Regions from separate parts of the Homo sapiens genome. Here regions 2 and 3 are each reported to be linked to region 1. The links are microRNA targets in miRTarBase. Many come from high-throughput screens and were not tested one by one. Region 1 holds a microRNA gene; each other region holds the end of a gene's coding sequence.
What was found. The annotated mature microRNA hsa-let-7f-5p reads UGAGGUAGUAGAUUGUAUAGUU and lies in region 1 at 1,823-1,844, opposite strand. An mRNA with a match to its seed (bases 2 to 7 or 8) in the 3' UTR can be bound and repressed. Matches are read on the target gene's strand: a 7mer-m8 pairs with bases 2 to 8, a 7mer-A1 pairs with bases 2 to 7 and ends in A, and an 8mer does both.

Region 1 (3,000 bases):
CAGGTGATCTTCCCACCTCAGCCTCCCAAGTAGCTGAGACTATAGGCATGTGCCACCATACCTGACTAATTTTTTGTATATTTAGTAGAGACAGGGTCTTGCCATGTTGCCCAGGCTGGTCTCAAACTCCTAAGCTCTAGCAATCCACCCACCTCGGCCTCCCAAAGTGCTGGGATTACAGGCGTGAGCCACTGCGTCCAGCCCTTCAAAATCTTTTTTTTTTTTTTTTTTTTCCTGAGACAGAGTCTTGCTCTGTTGCCCAGGCTGGAGTGCAGTGGCGTGTTCTCAGCTCACTGAAGCCTCCACTTCCTGGGTTCAAGCAATTCTCCTGCCTCAGCCTCCTGAGTAGCTGGGACCACAGGCGAGTGTCACCAAGCCTGGCTAATTTTTGTATTTTGAGTAGAGGCGGGGTTTCGCCGTGTTGGCCAGGTTGGTCTCGAACTCCTGACCTCAGGTGATCCACCCGCCTCGGCCTCCCAAAAATGCTGGGATTACAGGCATGAACCACTGCGCCTGGCCCAAAATTCTTAAAGTATGCTTTCCATTCCCTTGCACACATTCCTGTTCTATTACTAATAAAATGCAATCATTACACAGTTGAAGAATAGCAAAATGAGTTCATGCCCAAAGGTAAAATAATTATATGCTCCAATTAATGAAAGACAAGTCACTTTATAATGACATCTGCCTCACCCTAAACACCATCTGTCCCCTTCCATGTCTCTTTTCTTCCAGTCCAAATTATCCAAGGAACATCTACAACTTTGTCTGATGGAGGCAACACTGCTAAGACTAAGTGTGAATATGCCACACACCAGGGAAAGTAGTAAGTTGTATAGTTATCTTCTAATTGGGGCCTAATATCCCTACCCCACAACAATACAACTTACTACCTCACCCTGGCATGAGCAGAATCCTCTAATAAGGGCAGCAGGCAAAAGGCCATTTTACATGGTGACAGACTCTTTTAAAGATCTTTTGCTAGATTAAGGGTACCAAGGCATCTACCCTACTTCACTGCTTTAAAAAATATTGTGCAGGCTTTGGTACAATCATTTTCCAACTCAAGTGCGAAAGGAGACAGGTGTAGGGAGGCAGAAGAATGTTCTGAGGAAATATGGGTGGGGGAGACATATGATATCACATGAACCAACTGATAGAATCACAAAATGGCTACTGACCATTGTTAAGAAGATCAGAGGGAATAGGAAACATACGGCAGTCATACCACTAAGCCCAGAGAGCTACCTTCATGAACAGCACACTATCCAAGACAATGTTCCTAGACTTTTAGATTCCATGGACCAATAAAATTTAATTAAAAAAAGAACAAAAAGTAGAGACTAATGTAGGGGTTGCCAACTTTTAGTTTAGCCATGTAAGAAAAAACATCCAATCAACATCATTTAATAAAAATATTTTGGTACCACAGAATTAGGAATATGATCTCTAAATACAAAAACAGCCTTTTAAATGGAATAAATTCAGCTTTATGAAAAAGGCATTAAAGCTCCTTGATTTTGTTCGTTTCCACAGAGGACTGGCATTTGAGAACCACTGTCATCAGTTATTCTCATGAAGTGCCACACCATGGTGGTCATCAAAGGACCAGCCACTTCAAAGATGTACATGAACATGCTGTTTCAGAGGACAGAGTTGCAGTCAGGAAATGAACAAGACACATGACCTCATTACCCATGCCAGAACAAAGTAGATAATAACCAGAACAAGAACCTGAACAGAGCCAGTCGGAGAAGAAGTGTACCACCGTGGGAAAGACAGTAGACTGTATAGTTATCTCCAAGATGGGGTATGACCCTAAAACTATACAATCTACTACCTCATCCCACAGAGCACCAGTGTCCATCTTCAGCCTATGTGGGCCAGCTACTCGGAACTATCAGGATAAAGAAGCAACCAATTGATTAGTAAGAAGGGAGAAAGGGAAGGAGAGTTACCTGAGAGATTCTGTTCAGTGGAGTCATTTGACTTAGATGCAGTACACTGCAAAAAGAAGGGATAGACCAATGTGGGACTTTGCAAGCACCTAAGATAGAGGTCAACTGTAATAGTCACCATCCTCCACCCAGACCATCTAGGAGTTCAGTGATCTAATGGAGAATGCTTTGGCCATGTGACCAAAGGAAGGTGATCATTTCACTGTGCAAATATATGACCAATTTCTCTATACATACTCAGGTTCAAGAATTGTTTGGGGCTGAGGGGGAAATAAATATGGAAGGAAAGGATAATAAAAACCCCTTAGGGATGGGCACGATCATGATCATTCTAGCAAGAATTTCTTGGTTTCATCTATGTATTTTTTCCCTTCATGGGGCTTATTTTTTATTTTGTCCACTCTAGTCTTTTCAGTCACAGGCTAGGTTCACTTATTTTTCATCCTATATCAAGTTTGAAACAATGTGTGTATTAGGTAAAAAGTTCTATATAAAGATATTTGTTAGATCAACCTTGTTATTTTAACTGAACACTTCACTACCCTTATTTTTAATCTACCTGATTCCTTAACTGCTGAGTAGGGTATACTAAAGTCTTTCACTCTCAAGTCTTATTTCTTTGTATTTCTATCAGTTTTTCCCCCTTTTATATCAAGTGATACACTGTAATGTATAATTCTATCAACATTTACTCAGACATTTAAAAGATCTCTGTCTGAGGTCCCAGAAGTTTCAGAAAAAAGTAGGTAACTTCCTTCTAAACCAAAATTGTATTAGTGATTTTATACATGTGAGCCCTAGAAAAAATGACATGTGGTGATGGGGTTCAGAGTACAAACATTTTCTCTGATCTGACACCTAGGCTGATCTTACTCAAATGACGGAATGGGGTCATCTCGGTAAGATTCCCCACACTGGCAGTTCACCGACAGAAATGGAAGTGGGCGACTAAGAGCATGGACTTAGATAAGGTTTTTCTCCTTGTCTTGATGCTGTCCTTGGCGGTAGAGACTATGCAGTGTGACTGTTGAGTGAGAAGCCA
Region 2 (3,000 bases), not on the chromosome of region 1:
TTGGGAAGCCAAGGGGGGAGGATCACAAAGTCAGGAGATCGAGACCATCCTGGCTAACACGGTGAAACCCCGTCTCTATTAAAAATACAGAAAATTAGCTGGGTGTGGTGGCATGCGCCTGTAGTCCCAGCTACTCAGGAGGCTGAGGCAGGAGAATCGCTTGAACCTGGGAGGTGGAGGTTGCAGTGAGCTGAGATGACACCACTGCACTCTAACTTGGGCAACAGAGTGAGACGCTGCCTCAAAAAAAAAAAAAAAAAATGTGGCGCAGGGAAAGGGGGAACTGAGAGCTACTGCTGGATGAGAGGATGCCAGGAAGTCCAAGGGTGTTAAGAGGAGCAGCAGGCCAGGTGCAGTGGCTCAAGCCTGTAATTCCAGCACTTTGGGAGGCTGAGGCAGGTGGATCACCTGAGGTCAGGAGTTCAAGACCAGCCTGACCAACATGGTGAAACCCTGTCTCTACTAAAAATACAAAAATTATCCAGGTGTGGTGGTATACCCCCGTAATCCCAGCTACTCGGGAGGCTGAGGCAGGAGAATCACTTGAACCTGGGAGGTGGAGGTTGCAGTGAGCCAAGATCACACCATTGCACTCCAGCCTGGGTGACAGAGCGAGACTCCGTCTCAAAAAAAAAGAGGAGCAGCAGAATGCGGCTGGTACCTCTTTTCCCCTCCACTGGCATCACAAACCAAAGGGACCATTTGCTTTCCCCAGACCTCACACAACTTCTGGCCATGAGAAGCAGCTCAGTAAATGTCAGCTGCAATCATAAGTGGTGTTTGTCCTCCGGAAGCCCCAGGTGAGTGTCCACAGTTCCCTGGGACCCTGGAGGGGCTCCGTGGCCTGCTCCTGCTGCCTGCCCTGATGTCCCCTAACACAGTCCTGGAAACGAGGGGTGCCTGGTGACTTCCAGCCTCCTCTTACGTGTTTAGTTCTGAAAGCCGCAGTTACTCCATCCCAGAAGGCACCAGCTGCTCTCTGGCCATATCTTACAGAAGGGGCAGTACAACACTGGCTTGATATTCATCTATGAACCAATTTAATTTTAATTTAAAAATGACTTCTGATCTGGCAGATGATTTGGGTTCTAGAAAGAAATTGTGCCAGGCATGGTGGCTCATGCCTGTAATCCCAGCACTTTGGGAGGCTGAGGTGGGAGAAACCTGTGAGCTCAGGAATTGGAGACCAGCCTGGGCAACGTAGCAAGACTTCATTTCTACAATAATAATAATAAAAAAAGGCCAGGTGCGGTGGTTCACACCTGTAATCCCAGCACTTTGGGAGGCCACGAGACAGGTGGATCATGAGGTCAGGAGTTCGAGACCAGCCTGGCCAACGTGGTGAAACCCTGCCTCTACTAAAAACACAAAAATTAGCTAGGCGTGGTGGCGGGAGGCTGTAATCCCAGCTACTAGGGAGGTTGAGGCAGGAGAATCACTTGAATCTGGAAGGCAGAAGTTGCAGTGAGCCGAGGTCACACCATTGCACTCCAGCCTGGGCAACAAGAGCGAAACTCTGTCTCAAAAAAAAAAAAAAAAGGGCCGGGCATGGTGGCTCATGCCTGTAATCCCAGCACTTTAGGAGGCCGAGACGGGTGGATCATGAGGTCAGGAGTTCAAGACCAGCCTGACCAACGTAGTGAAACCCAGTCTCTACTAAATATACAAAAAAAATGAGCTGGGCGTGGTAGTGAGTGCCAGTAGTCCCAGCTACTTGGGAGGCTGAGGCAGGAGAATTGCTTGAACCCAGGAGGTGGAGGTTGAGGTTGCAGTGAGCCGAGATCATGCCACTGCATTCCAGCCTGAGTGACAGAGTGAGACTCAGTCTCAAAAAAAAAAAAAAAAAAAAAGAACAGGCATGGTGGCTCATGCCTGTAATCCCAGCACTTTGGGAAGCCAAGGTGGGCAGATCACCTGAGCTCAGGAGTTCAAGATCAGCCTGAGCAACATGGTGAAACCTTGTCTCTACAAAAAATACAAAAATTAGCCAGGAGTGGTGGCGTGTGTCTGTAGTCCCAGCCACTTGGGAGACTGAGGTGGGAGAACCTCTTGAACCCAGGAGGTAGAGGTTGCAGTGAGCCAAGATCCCACCACTATACTCCAGCTTGGGTGACAGAGTATGACCCTGTCTCAAAAAAAAAAAAAAAAAAAAGAAAGAAAAAAAATTGCAGGTGTCTTCCCCTATCCCAAGAGGGTGGCCAAGTCAGCCCTGCTAGAATAGAGTGAATTCCAGTTCCATCTCTATCAGACAGTTCCTGACCATTTGGCAAGATGGTACTTCTGGTATTTCTGCTAAAAGGCTTCGCTCCCCAAAGTGAAGACCTGAGGTGTGAATGTCAGGAACAAAATGATAGCAGCATTCTGGTTTCTCATTGCAGGCTTTCGTTCCATTCTCCCTGCCTGAGCTGTTTCAAACTGTTCCAGAATGTTCCAAACAGCCTCTTCTCTCTCTTGCTGTTTTGCCTTCCTCCTTTCCTTCACTACCCTCTTCTTCAAGCAAGAAACAAAATTCAGTAGAAAGCAGCAGAAGCTCTAGGGAGACAGAAAAGTGAAAGGGGAGAAGAGTACACTTCGTCCTCCCTCTCCTAGCCTGAAGTCCTGCCTTCTCCAGGAGTCAAGAGTCAGTGAAAACAATGGTGCTGGTTTTCCTGAGAGTCAGCAGCTATGACCTGTGGTGTGAGTCAAGGGAGAAGTGTGGCCCATCCAGACTGGGAGGATTAGGGGTGAGCGGCAAGTCCACGCTGGGGTCTAAAGCGCCACTGGGGCAACACTACGGTATCCTGGCTACCTTTGGTTTCAGAGGCGGCCTCTTTGGTGGGTGCAACTGGCTTTGCAAACATCTTAGCAAGTGCAGTGGGTCTTTTCACTTGGACCCTGGGCCATAAGAACGGGGCTGGAGTCCAGGGGGAGGCCGTTCAGGGCACTCTCCCCATATAGGTGCAGGCTGTTGCGCGCGATCAGCTCCTTGGCCATGAGCACGAAGACTTCTTCTATGTTCTT
Region 3 (3,000 bases), not on the chromosome of region 1:
TGGGCAGATGCCCCTCAGGTTCTCATGGCCTCAGTAAGCATACTGAAGTGAGTTCGGGTACTGAGTGCAGGATAAAGCTATTCTTATCCTTTGAACAACCAGGCCACTAAGGCTTTTTTTTTCTTTCCCCCCGACCCCCCAGATTTTAGGAAGGGAGGTTTAAGAAATGACTGGCTAGCTATGGTCCAAAAAAAAAAAGGTGAAGGCAGATATTATTCCTCTGTACCAGCAAAGTTCACAGTGATAGGAAAATTCCTTGTGGGTGCTGAGGACACTGAGAGGAGGAAAGGAAAGACAGGATAGATGGGAGGACACAGGAGTGGGGAAGGCAAGGAGAAAAGACAGGAGGTGGGGGCAAGGCCCCGGTTACAAAGGGTTTAAACAGTTGCTTTGCCAGTCCTATGACTTTTCCAGCATCACTTACGGGGAGAGAGAATTCGAGGGAGGGACAGGAAAGGGCAGGCAGAGAGGAAAGGACTCCTCTAACAGCCCGGGACTTTGTATTCTGCAGCCAGAGGCCCAGTGGCCTCTGTAAACTGAGAGTGTAGGGAAGGTGGCAGTTAAGGTGAGAAGGGTTGCTGAGTCTAGTGATGAAAACCAGATACAACAAAGAGGATGGCAACAGCGAGTCCCAACTGGATTCTCACATACCATCACCTATAATACAAGTCCCAATAACATGCACAGCATGCAGGAGGTGGCTGCGTACCAAGGTAGACACTTTTTAAAATAAACCTTAATTAGTCCCTGGGACTCACTGAAACTAATTTTTAGAAGCAAATCATCTAGTCTGATTCTAACCTTGCCAGACATTTTAATATCTGGTGTTTTTAAAAAGGTATCCCAAGCTACCCTGCCTAAATCAAAACACACTTACTCCAAATTGCTTCTAATCAAGAGCTAGGGAGCTAAATTTTAAGGCTTTTACCTCAAACAAGGAGTACTGGCTTAGGCTGAAGCAGAAAGCTGAGTCCTGGACCTGCTCAGTTCCTGATGACAAACCAAGTGAACCTAGACAGAAGGTGGGTGAGGGAGGACTGGTAGGAGGCTGAGGCAATTCCTTGGTAGTTTGTCCTGAAACCCTACTGGAGAAGTCAGCATGAGGCACCTACTGAGAGAAGTGCCCAGAAACTGCTGACTGCATCTGTTAAGAGTTAACAGTAAAGAGGTAGAAGTGTGTTTCTGAATCAGAGTGGAAGCGTCTCAAGGGTCCCACAGTGGAGGTCCCTGAGCTACCTCCCTTCCGTGAGTGGGAAGAGTGAAGCCCATGAAGAACTGAGATGAAGCAAGGATGGGGTTCCTGGGCTCCAGGCAAGGGCTGTGCTCTCTGCAGCAGGGAGCCCCACGAGTCAGAAGAAAAGAACTAATCATTTGTTGCAAGAAACCTTGCCGGATACTAGCGGAAAACTGGAGGCGGGGGTGGGGGCACAGGAAAGTGGAAGTGATTTGATGGAGAGCAGAGAAGCCTATGCACAGTGGCCGAGTCCACTGTAAAGTGGAAGAGACAGAAGGGACATTGTGGATAAGGAAAATTTTGGTTTGGGACACAACAATGTACCCATAGATTAGGACTTAGCTATCTACCCATTCCTAACCTTCTGCAAACTCTTCTTCCAACAATTCCACAACTTCCCGGAAAAGGGACAGGTGGGAGGAAGACCAATGAGGGGCTCAGACTTCCTCCTTTGCTATCCACACCAACCCAGACTCTGCTTCCAAGACTAATAACAACAGCTCATGATGTTCAAGGTGGGGACTAGGGGATGGGGAGGTGACGGACGTGGGCATGCCTTTCATTTCTTCCCCTCTCCAGTTCAAGAGAAGGATGAGGGGGTCATAATGTACTTGGAGAAAAACAGAATTGCAGACCTGTGAGAAAACTGCTCCAATCCTCTTGCCTGTCTTCTGTGGATACCGCCGAGGCAGGCAGGAACAAATGCAGTCATGGAAGATGGCAGAGACTGAAGCAGTCCAAAGTCAGTTTATTTCCCCACGGGGGAAAAATGTGACCTCAAATGAAGAGAAGTCAGCAAGCCCCGACTCCACCTTGTAAACAGGACTCCAGTTAACACCAGGTACCAAATGGTTCAGGCTGGTGCCAACTGGAATGGACTGATGGGAATGGATTCACGGTGTGTAAACAGTGTTCACTGCAATCACTCTAAGGCTAACAGCTTGGCAAGGGAGGTGAAATGGTGTGTCTGAGGTGACTGTGTAAACGGTACCGTTGCTGGACAACACTGACTGAAAACGGAGGTGCTGGTACAGGAGGAATGGGTGGGCGAGAAATAAAGGCCTTCTCTCCTGCCCATTGGTTGGAAGCAGGCAATGGAGCCAAGTGACCTTCTACAGCAGGGCCTGACCAACTGACTGCTGTGGGGTCTGCAGGTTGGGACCAGAAGGTGGGCTTCTTGGGCAATTTCTCTAGAGGTCATCCAAGGTGAAACCCTCTGTGTCTCCAAGAGGCCTCCCCATTCTCCAAAGAGAAGGAGGTTCTGGCGCTTTGGAGAGGAAGAGGGCCAAGTGTGGCTCCCGATTCAGGTCAAAAAAATAAAAGTAAATAATACCTGAAGTCCTACGGTATGAGATCTTTTCACGGGGTTGGGGCTCAAGGCTCCTTCTGGAATCGATCCTAGAGCCTGAACCCCCAAACCAAGTGCTCCTGTATACAGACACTGGAATTTTTTTTTTTGAACCCAGCTCTGAAAGCTCAGCTGCCTTCATGGGGGACACAGACGGGGTGGGTACTAAGGCTCCATAACAGAGCCAAAAACTGAGCTGAGGGCCTCTGTGGGGGCTACTGGAATGCTTGATGGAAACGAGGCAGGGTGGTGCTACTCAGGCCAGACGTGAAGACAGGAGGCAAGGAGTGCAGAGGCCCAAAGTTCAGTGGTCCCCCAGCTCCTGGGGAATCTTGAGGCTGAGCTTGCAAAGTGGTAAGCAGGGGCTGTGCCTCAGCCTGGGAGTAGCCCATGACCAGGCCTCCTGTGGCCCCAGGTG

Region 2: miRTarBase lists RAB19 as a target of hsa-let-7f-5p. Seed matches in the 3' UTR shown: 7mer-m8 at 2,060-2,066.
Region 3: miRTarBase lists PLAGL2 as a target of hsa-let-7f-5p. Seed matches in the 3' UTR shown: 7mer-m8 at 1,166-1,172.

Annotation. Positions count from the first base shown.
Region 1 is chrX:53,555,424-53,558,423 of GRCh38, forward strand. It overlaps MIRLET7F2 (microRNA let-7f-2), which reads right to left and starts at 1,851; the gene lies at 1,769-1,851. HUWE1 (HECT, UBA and WWE domain containing E3 ubiquitin protein ligase 1) reads right to left here. Exons shown (of 84, transcript NM_031407.7): 60 at 1,959-2,004. MIR98 (microRNA 98) reads right to left here and starts at 918; the gene lies at 800-918.
Region 2 is chr7:140,425,992-140,428,991 of GRCh38, reverse strand. It overlaps RAB19 (RAB19, member RAS oncogene family), which reads right to left. Exons shown (of 4, transcript NM_001008749.3): 4 at 1,018-3,000. The coding sequence ends at 2,842. Among named protein-coding and RNA genes, the nearest start is that of RAB19, 23 kb to the right of the region's middle.
Region 3 is chr20:32,193,655-32,196,654 of GRCh38, forward strand. It overlaps PLAGL2 (PLAG1 like zinc finger 2), which reads right to left. Exons shown (of 3, transcript NM_002657.3): 3 at 1-3,000. The coding sequence ends at 2,798. Among named protein-coding and RNA genes, the nearest start is that of PLAGL2, 13 kb to the right of the region's middle. RefSeq lists an enhancer at 2,649-3,000.